Linked DNA regions of Homo sapiens. The protein of the gene in region 1 interacts with the protein of each later gene in a pairwise test. Each region holds a gene or a part of one and is shown on either strand. Other genes may lie near its edges.

The links. The genes of interacting proteins can lie anywhere in the genome.
Region 2: the proteins of PPP1R37 (region 1) and HNRNPCL2 interact in binary tests that used the Homo sapiens proteins (3 or more experiments, as listed by UniProt).

What each region holds. Positions count from the first base shown.
Region 1 is NC_000019.10:45,145,160-45,147,919, forward strand, and holds the end of PPP1R37 (protein phosphatase 1 regulatory subunit 37), read left to right. Parts: coding exon 1-101; intron 102-193; coding exon 194-890; intron 891-1,230; coding exon 1,231-1,313; 3' UTR 1,314-1,321; intron 1,322-1,411; 3' UTR 1,412-2,126; downstream 2,127-2,760. UniProt on the Homo sapiens protein: Inhibits phosphatase activity of protein phosphatase 1 (PP1) complexes.
Region 2 is NC_000001.11:13,114,861-13,118,529, forward strand, and holds HNRNPCL2 (heterogeneous nuclear ribonucleoprotein C-like 2), read right to left. Parts: upstream 1,995-3,669; 5' UTR 1,933-1,994; intron 1,722-1,932; 5' UTR 1,541-1,721; coding exon 659-1,540; 3' UTR 628-658; downstream 1-627.

The DNA of each region.
Region 1 (2,760 bases):
ACGAGATCAAGACAGGCGGGCTCATGGCACTGTCGTTGGCCCTCAAGGTGAACCACTCACTGCTGCGCCTGGACCTCGACCGTGAACCCAAGAAAGAGGCGGTGAGCAGGGGACGGTCCTGCAGCCCTGGGGCGGGCGGAAGGCCGGGTGGTGGGGCCGGCCTGAGAGCCCTAGCCAGGCGCTCCCGCCACAGGTGAAGAGCTTCATCGAGACGCAGAAGGCGCTGCTGGCCGAGATCCAGAACGGCTGCAAGCGCAACTTGGTGCTGGCGCGGGAGAGGGAGGAGAAGGAGCAGCCGCCACAGCTGTCGGCCTCCATGCCTGAGACCACCGCCACCGAGCCCCAGCCCGACGACGAGCCCGCCGCTGGGGTGCAGAACGGGGCCCCCAGCCCCGCACCCAGCCCGGACTCAGACTCAGACTCGGACTCGGATGGGGAGGAAGAGGAGGAAGAGGAAGGGGAGAGGGACGAGACCCCCTGTCCTGCCCTGGTGCCCCCCACGGACTCCCTGGGCCCTGGGGACAGGAGTCCCCCAGGCAGCCCCTCCACACCCACCGAGCAGCGGATTTCCGTGTCCAGCCCGGGCCGGGGCCACAAGGTGTTTGTGGTGACCCGGGTGGAGAGCCCGCCCGAGAGGGCAGAGCCCCCTGCGTCCCCCACCCCTCCCTCTCCCCCACCCCCTCCCTCCCCACCCGCCTCACCTTCCCTACCACCAGCCGGGGCCATTGACACCCGGGACACAGGGTCCTCTGAGCCTCAGCCACCACCGGAGCCGCCTCGGTCAGGGCCACCACTGCCCAACGGCCTGAAGCCCGAGTTCGCCCTGGCACTGCCCCCTGAGCCGCCCCCGGGGCCTGAGGTCAAGGGGGGCAGCTGCGGCCTGGAGCACGGTGAGAGGGGCCCTAGGGCAGGTGTTGAGGGGCCCTGGGTGCTGTATGTGACCCCAGGCAAGCCCCTGCCTGTTGTGGACCTCAGTTTCCCCCTCTTTAAAATGGTTCTCGCAGGGGCCAGCAAAGTGGGGCTTAGTTCTCATCTCCACCCTGCTTCCCTTGGGTCCTGGGAGCTCTTCCTGGGGTGGGGGGGCATGTAAGGTGTGCTGCCTTGAGCCTGACCATCTCAGCGGTCTCTGGGCACTCTGCAGGCCCTGAGGGTCTGGCTGGGGCCGGGCTGGGGACAGGTTGTATTTGCCCCACCCGCCTGACGGGGGTGCTGGCCCGTCCTCCCACACAGAACTGAGCTGCTCCAAGAACGAGAAGGAGCTCGAGGAGCTGCTTCTGGAAGCCAGTCAGGAATCCGGGCAGGAGACACTGTGACACTTTAGGTGAGGCCAGGCCCGGGGCCCACAGCACTCGGGAGGAGCTGAGAGAGCCTCTGGCTCTGACAGTCTCTCCCCCAATCTCTCCTCCCCAAGTTCCCTTTTTCCGGTCGGTCTGCGATGAGCTGAGGCCAGAGCCATGAGAATCTGCTCACCTTCCCCCCAGCCTTCCTGAGGCCCAGGATGCCAGGGGTGGGGGCCATTCTGGGGCCCCCCTCCCCCCACAGCAACACTACAAGGGGTGCAGGAGCTACAGGGAGTGGCCCTCCGCGCGTGACTCAAGCACTTCTATTTATGAGCCCAGCACTGGAAGACTCTGGGGGTGAATGGGAGGAGGGGGAGCAGGAGGAGGAGGAGGTCTCCAAGGACATCAGGCGCCTGTTCTGGAGGGGCCAGGCTTGCCCTGCGGAGGGCAGGCGTCCTGGGTGGTGGTGGGATGGTCCCCTGTGGCCCCGGGCACAGGGCCGGGCAGGCAGCCTGGTGCCGGAGAGGCGGTGCGTGCTGGTGGTGGTTGAGATGCACAGAACAGCCCCAGACAGCGCAGGCCGGGCAGGGTGGGGGGATGGGAGCAGAGGATCAGAGCTTTCTTTTTCTCAAGTGCAATAAATCTATCAGGGAGCTGGGGCGGGAGCAGCCGGCACTCCGGGACCCTGCTGTCCAGGCCACTGGAGGCTGCGCCCTGAGAGGCACTACAGCCCTTTGGGGGCGAGTGGCATGGGTGTGGGTGAGGGTGGGCAGAGGGCTGGGGCTACTCCTGTCGGTGCAACTCTGTTCACACCTTTTCTAATAAACTGGGGCTGGGTTCACTTTGCCCAACGTCTGCTTCGTGCGGATCCTGGAGGTGGTTGCTGGGGGTGGGCTGGGTGGAGGCCATCACAGCTCCTGGTTACAGAGCATCTGCCAGGGCACTGGTCAGGCATTACTGCGTCTTCCCCCACAGTCCCGTCTATTCTGCATCCATGCTCTGGTGTCTCGTACGGTCACCTCCCAGCCAGGCGAGTTTACACCCATCCTTTCTGCAGGGAGAGACAGGCCCCAGATACCTCCTGGCTTCAGGTCTAGGGTCTCAGGATGCTGGATATGGAGTGGCTCTGCCCAGTCGCCCATCGCTCAACAGGAACAGATCCCAGCCTGTCCCTGGCAGCCCCAGGTGTTGTGCAGGTGGGAGTATGCCCCGGGCCCAGCCAGCACTGCAGGAGCCTGGTGGGCGGCTTGTTCCCCTTTGCCAGCAGGGGCCTGGGGGGCCATGGGGGTGCTGTTGCGGATTTCTGAGAGGTCTGTTTTTCCCTTTAGGAAAGGGGGGAGCAGGCCGGGCATGGTGGCCCACACCTGTAATCCCAGCACTTTGGGAGGCTGAGGTGGGAGGATTGCTTGAACCCAGGAATTTGACACCAGCCTGGGCAACATGGTGAAACCCCATCTCCATAGAAAATACAAAAATTAGC
Region 2 (3,669 bases), on another chromosome or scaffold:
ATTGCTGGTTTAATAAAGAGTTGTTTATTTTCAGGGAAAAGGTCCCAAACATCAAGCTGTTCACAAAAATAACCCACGGTATCAACTTTAGAAAACACATTTGAAGACTATAACACCAATTATGTTTCTGAGGATGCATTTGACATGCCAACTCTCATTCACAAAAATACATTGTTAGATTTTTGTTGAACTGCCCCACACAGCACACTAATATGGGGTGTAACACACATACTTGTAACTCCAAGCTGCTTTCAGGAGCTACTCAACTCAATGAGATTGCCTTTGCAGTTAGGGAAGCAACTACTGAACTTATGTATGAAAGAAAAGAACTGTATTCCCTGCATAACAAGAGATTATTTTGGAGACAGTTGATAAAAACCATACATCCTTTTTACTGTTAAGTCATAAAGAGGTGTCAAAATTAAAAGCAAAAATTACAGGGTAAGACTTAGGAAAACTACTAGGGGTGTCATGGGAAGTGAAAATGGGACTAGGCGCAGGGCAATATGAATTAATGAATGTGGGAAGGACAAGGATGGGGAGAACAGTAAGCATGTGCTGAAGATACTAAGGGAGAGGATCTGGTGAAAAATTTGTTGTTAGACAAGCTCCTAGGTAAAGAAACAATGGGATAAGATTTCTCAACCCCACTATGTGCTTAAGAGTCATCCTGGCCATTGGTGCTGTCTCTGTTATCCTCTCCTTCCTCAGCATCTTTTTCATTATTCTTGATCAAATGAAGCTGGTTGTCCCCCTGATCTTCATTATCATCATCATCCAGTGGGTCCCCCTCCTCAGCAGAGTCTTCTGCACCCCCCTCAGACTCCATCTTTACATGAGTCTCATCTTTCTTCATGGAGCTACTGCTCTGCTCCTCTTCTGACTTAGCATTTTTCACCTCTACCTCTTGTTTGCTCTGTTCCTTTTCAATTTTTTCCAGGTTTTCCAGGAGAGAATCCACTTTCTGTTTTATCTGGGTCAACTCCTGCTTAATGGCCTGAAGGTCATCTCCTTTCAGCTTTCCAGACTTGGAAGATCCCCGCTTTCCACTCTTAGAATTGAAGCCACTTTTGCCCCTTCGTGAGGTGTTTCCTGATATGCGCTGGCGTTTCGAGGGCACTACAGCCAGAGCAATGGGAGGAGGAGGAGGTACACGTGCTGGGAAACTGTACATCCCATCATAATAATCCCGTTGAAAGCCATAGTCCAAGTCAAAAGAGGAGCCGTACATCTCCGCTGCGGATCGTTTCACACCTGCGTTTCCTCGGTTCACTTTTGGCTCTGCAGCCAGGTTAATAACTGCAACCTGGCTAGCAATCATTCTGCCATCCTCTCCTGCTACAGCAGCCCGGGCATTTTTCTCCTTATCATATTGAACGAAGGCAAAGCCCTTATGAACAGAGCAGCCCGCAATTTTGCCATACTTGGAAAAGATCGCCTCCACATCAGATTTCTTGACAACAAGAGTGTTGAGATTCCCAATGAACACACGGGAGTTCACGGAGTGAGGATCCATCTTGTTGGTAACGTTGCTGGCCATTGTGTTGGATGATAAGGTTTCTCAAAAAGCCAAAAACAGGAGGCGGGAGGGAGAAGAGATTCGATTCTAAGTCTCCTACTGCCGGGTTCTACGGGGAGAAACTGACTGCGGCTCGAGGCCAGAAATGCAGCCAAAACAGCTCAGTCTTCGTCTCTTCACAAAATGGCTGCCAACAAGAATTCTGAAATGATGTAAAGAAAAGCACAACAACATTTTTGAAATCACGACAAAATTGCATTTAGAAAAAAAAATCAAAGCTTCAAAGTGTTCATATGAAAAAAAGAAAAAAAGACATGATATAGTTCTATGCCATCGTAGGCTGCACTGTCACCGTTCTAGACCGGCTGACTGTAGGTCACATGGGAGTGTCCTTACAGAAATTAGTGACTTACCAGATCTGGTTGTAGTTTAGAAGGTGCTCAGACCTCAGGAAGAGCCAAGCAGGAACTCCAGGCTTGAAGACTTTGAGTTTGTCCTGTGGGTCTTTAGAAGCTTTTATTGACCTTTCTAATCACAACTCCCACCCACGCCCCTCCACGTATCCGCTGCTAGCTTCCAATCAAAAAGCGATATCTGATTGCATTTCTGAAGCTCCACTCAGTTAATCCTGATTGGGTTTTTGACTGTCCGAAGACTAATGGATTGAACGAGATATCCATTCATATCACATATGCATAATCATTTTATGAATTAAGAAATTGACAGAGTTAGGGATAGAGTGGAAATCAAGAATTCATTCACTCAAGGCCAGGTGAGGTGGCTCACACTTGTAATCCCAGCACTTTGGGAGGCCAAGGTAGGTGGATCACCTGAGGTCAGGAGTTCAAGACCAGCCTGGCCCACATGGTGAAACCCTGTCTCTACAAAAATAGAAAAGTTAGCCAGGCACGATGGTGGCTGCCTGTAGTCCAGTTACTCATGCGGCTGAGGTGGGAGAATCCCTTGAACCCTGGAGGCTGAGTTTGCAGTGAGCCAAGATTACACCATTGCCCTCCTGACTGGGCGACAGAGGGAGATTTTGTCAAAAAAAATGCATTCATTCATGAAATCCACAAACACTGATGGAATTTTACTGCTATTTCGCCTTCAAGTCCTGATGTGAGGCAGGGAAGGGGTTGATCTGTTCCAGACATTAGACAGAAAAATAAAACCTGAAAGTAGTGTTGTGGGGAGATCTTTGGCCACATCAAAATTATAAAATTTATAAAAATATTTCTAGTTAAAATAGCTGTATAAACACAGAGGAGTCGTCCCTACAAAATAAGAATAAAGATCTCCATGTATGGAATGGTCTTGTGGGTTTTATATCACCTAAGGTAGCAGTTTCTTCACTCGTGCTGGTGGAAGAGAGGTGCCACTGAGGGCTTGAGTGGTCTCAGGGCTTAGGTTAAGTCTTCTCTGGAAGAAATTGAAATGATACCTGTAAACTTTATAAGTTTAATCAGTGAAGAAGGGAGGGGGAGAAACAAAAATAAACCAAGCTTGCAGCGCATTCAGCATTCACCATGAGGTCAGCTTGCTCTCTGACCTTCTTCCTCATGGTTGCTGGCAGCTTACTGTCCCCAAATCAAGTAGACCTTAGCTTACAGTTCCCCTTAACTACCCTGCAGACAACAATTTAAGCCTTGTAAAACATTAACTTTCTCATTTGAGATATTCTTTCAGGTTCTGCATGTCAGTGAAACTACTGATGCCAGCTGATCTGAAGGGCTCTGCAAGGCACCAACTCACCAAAGAATGCAGTTTTGACATCCTGATGACTTCATCCCTCTTACCTCTACACCAACTTTCCAGCCCCTTGCTATCCAGGATCCACTGGAAACCCTCAGTACTACTTGGGGAGATGAATTTGAGGATATCCTCCTAGCTTCTCATTTAGCCACCCTGTGATCATTAAACTGTCTGCTGCAAACACTGCTGTCTCAGAATATTGGTCAGCTACTGTGCAGCAGGCATAGGAACCTGATGGTCCTGTAATAAAATCATGTCAAAATTACAAAGAGAAGTGAGGGTAGAGGATGGGCATGGTTGAGCTGGGTGTTTTAATGGGATCCTGGGAGTTAACCAAGACTTGGTAAACATGTTGGGGGTTACTGAGGGGGTGGAGGTGGAATCTATCCAACATTTCA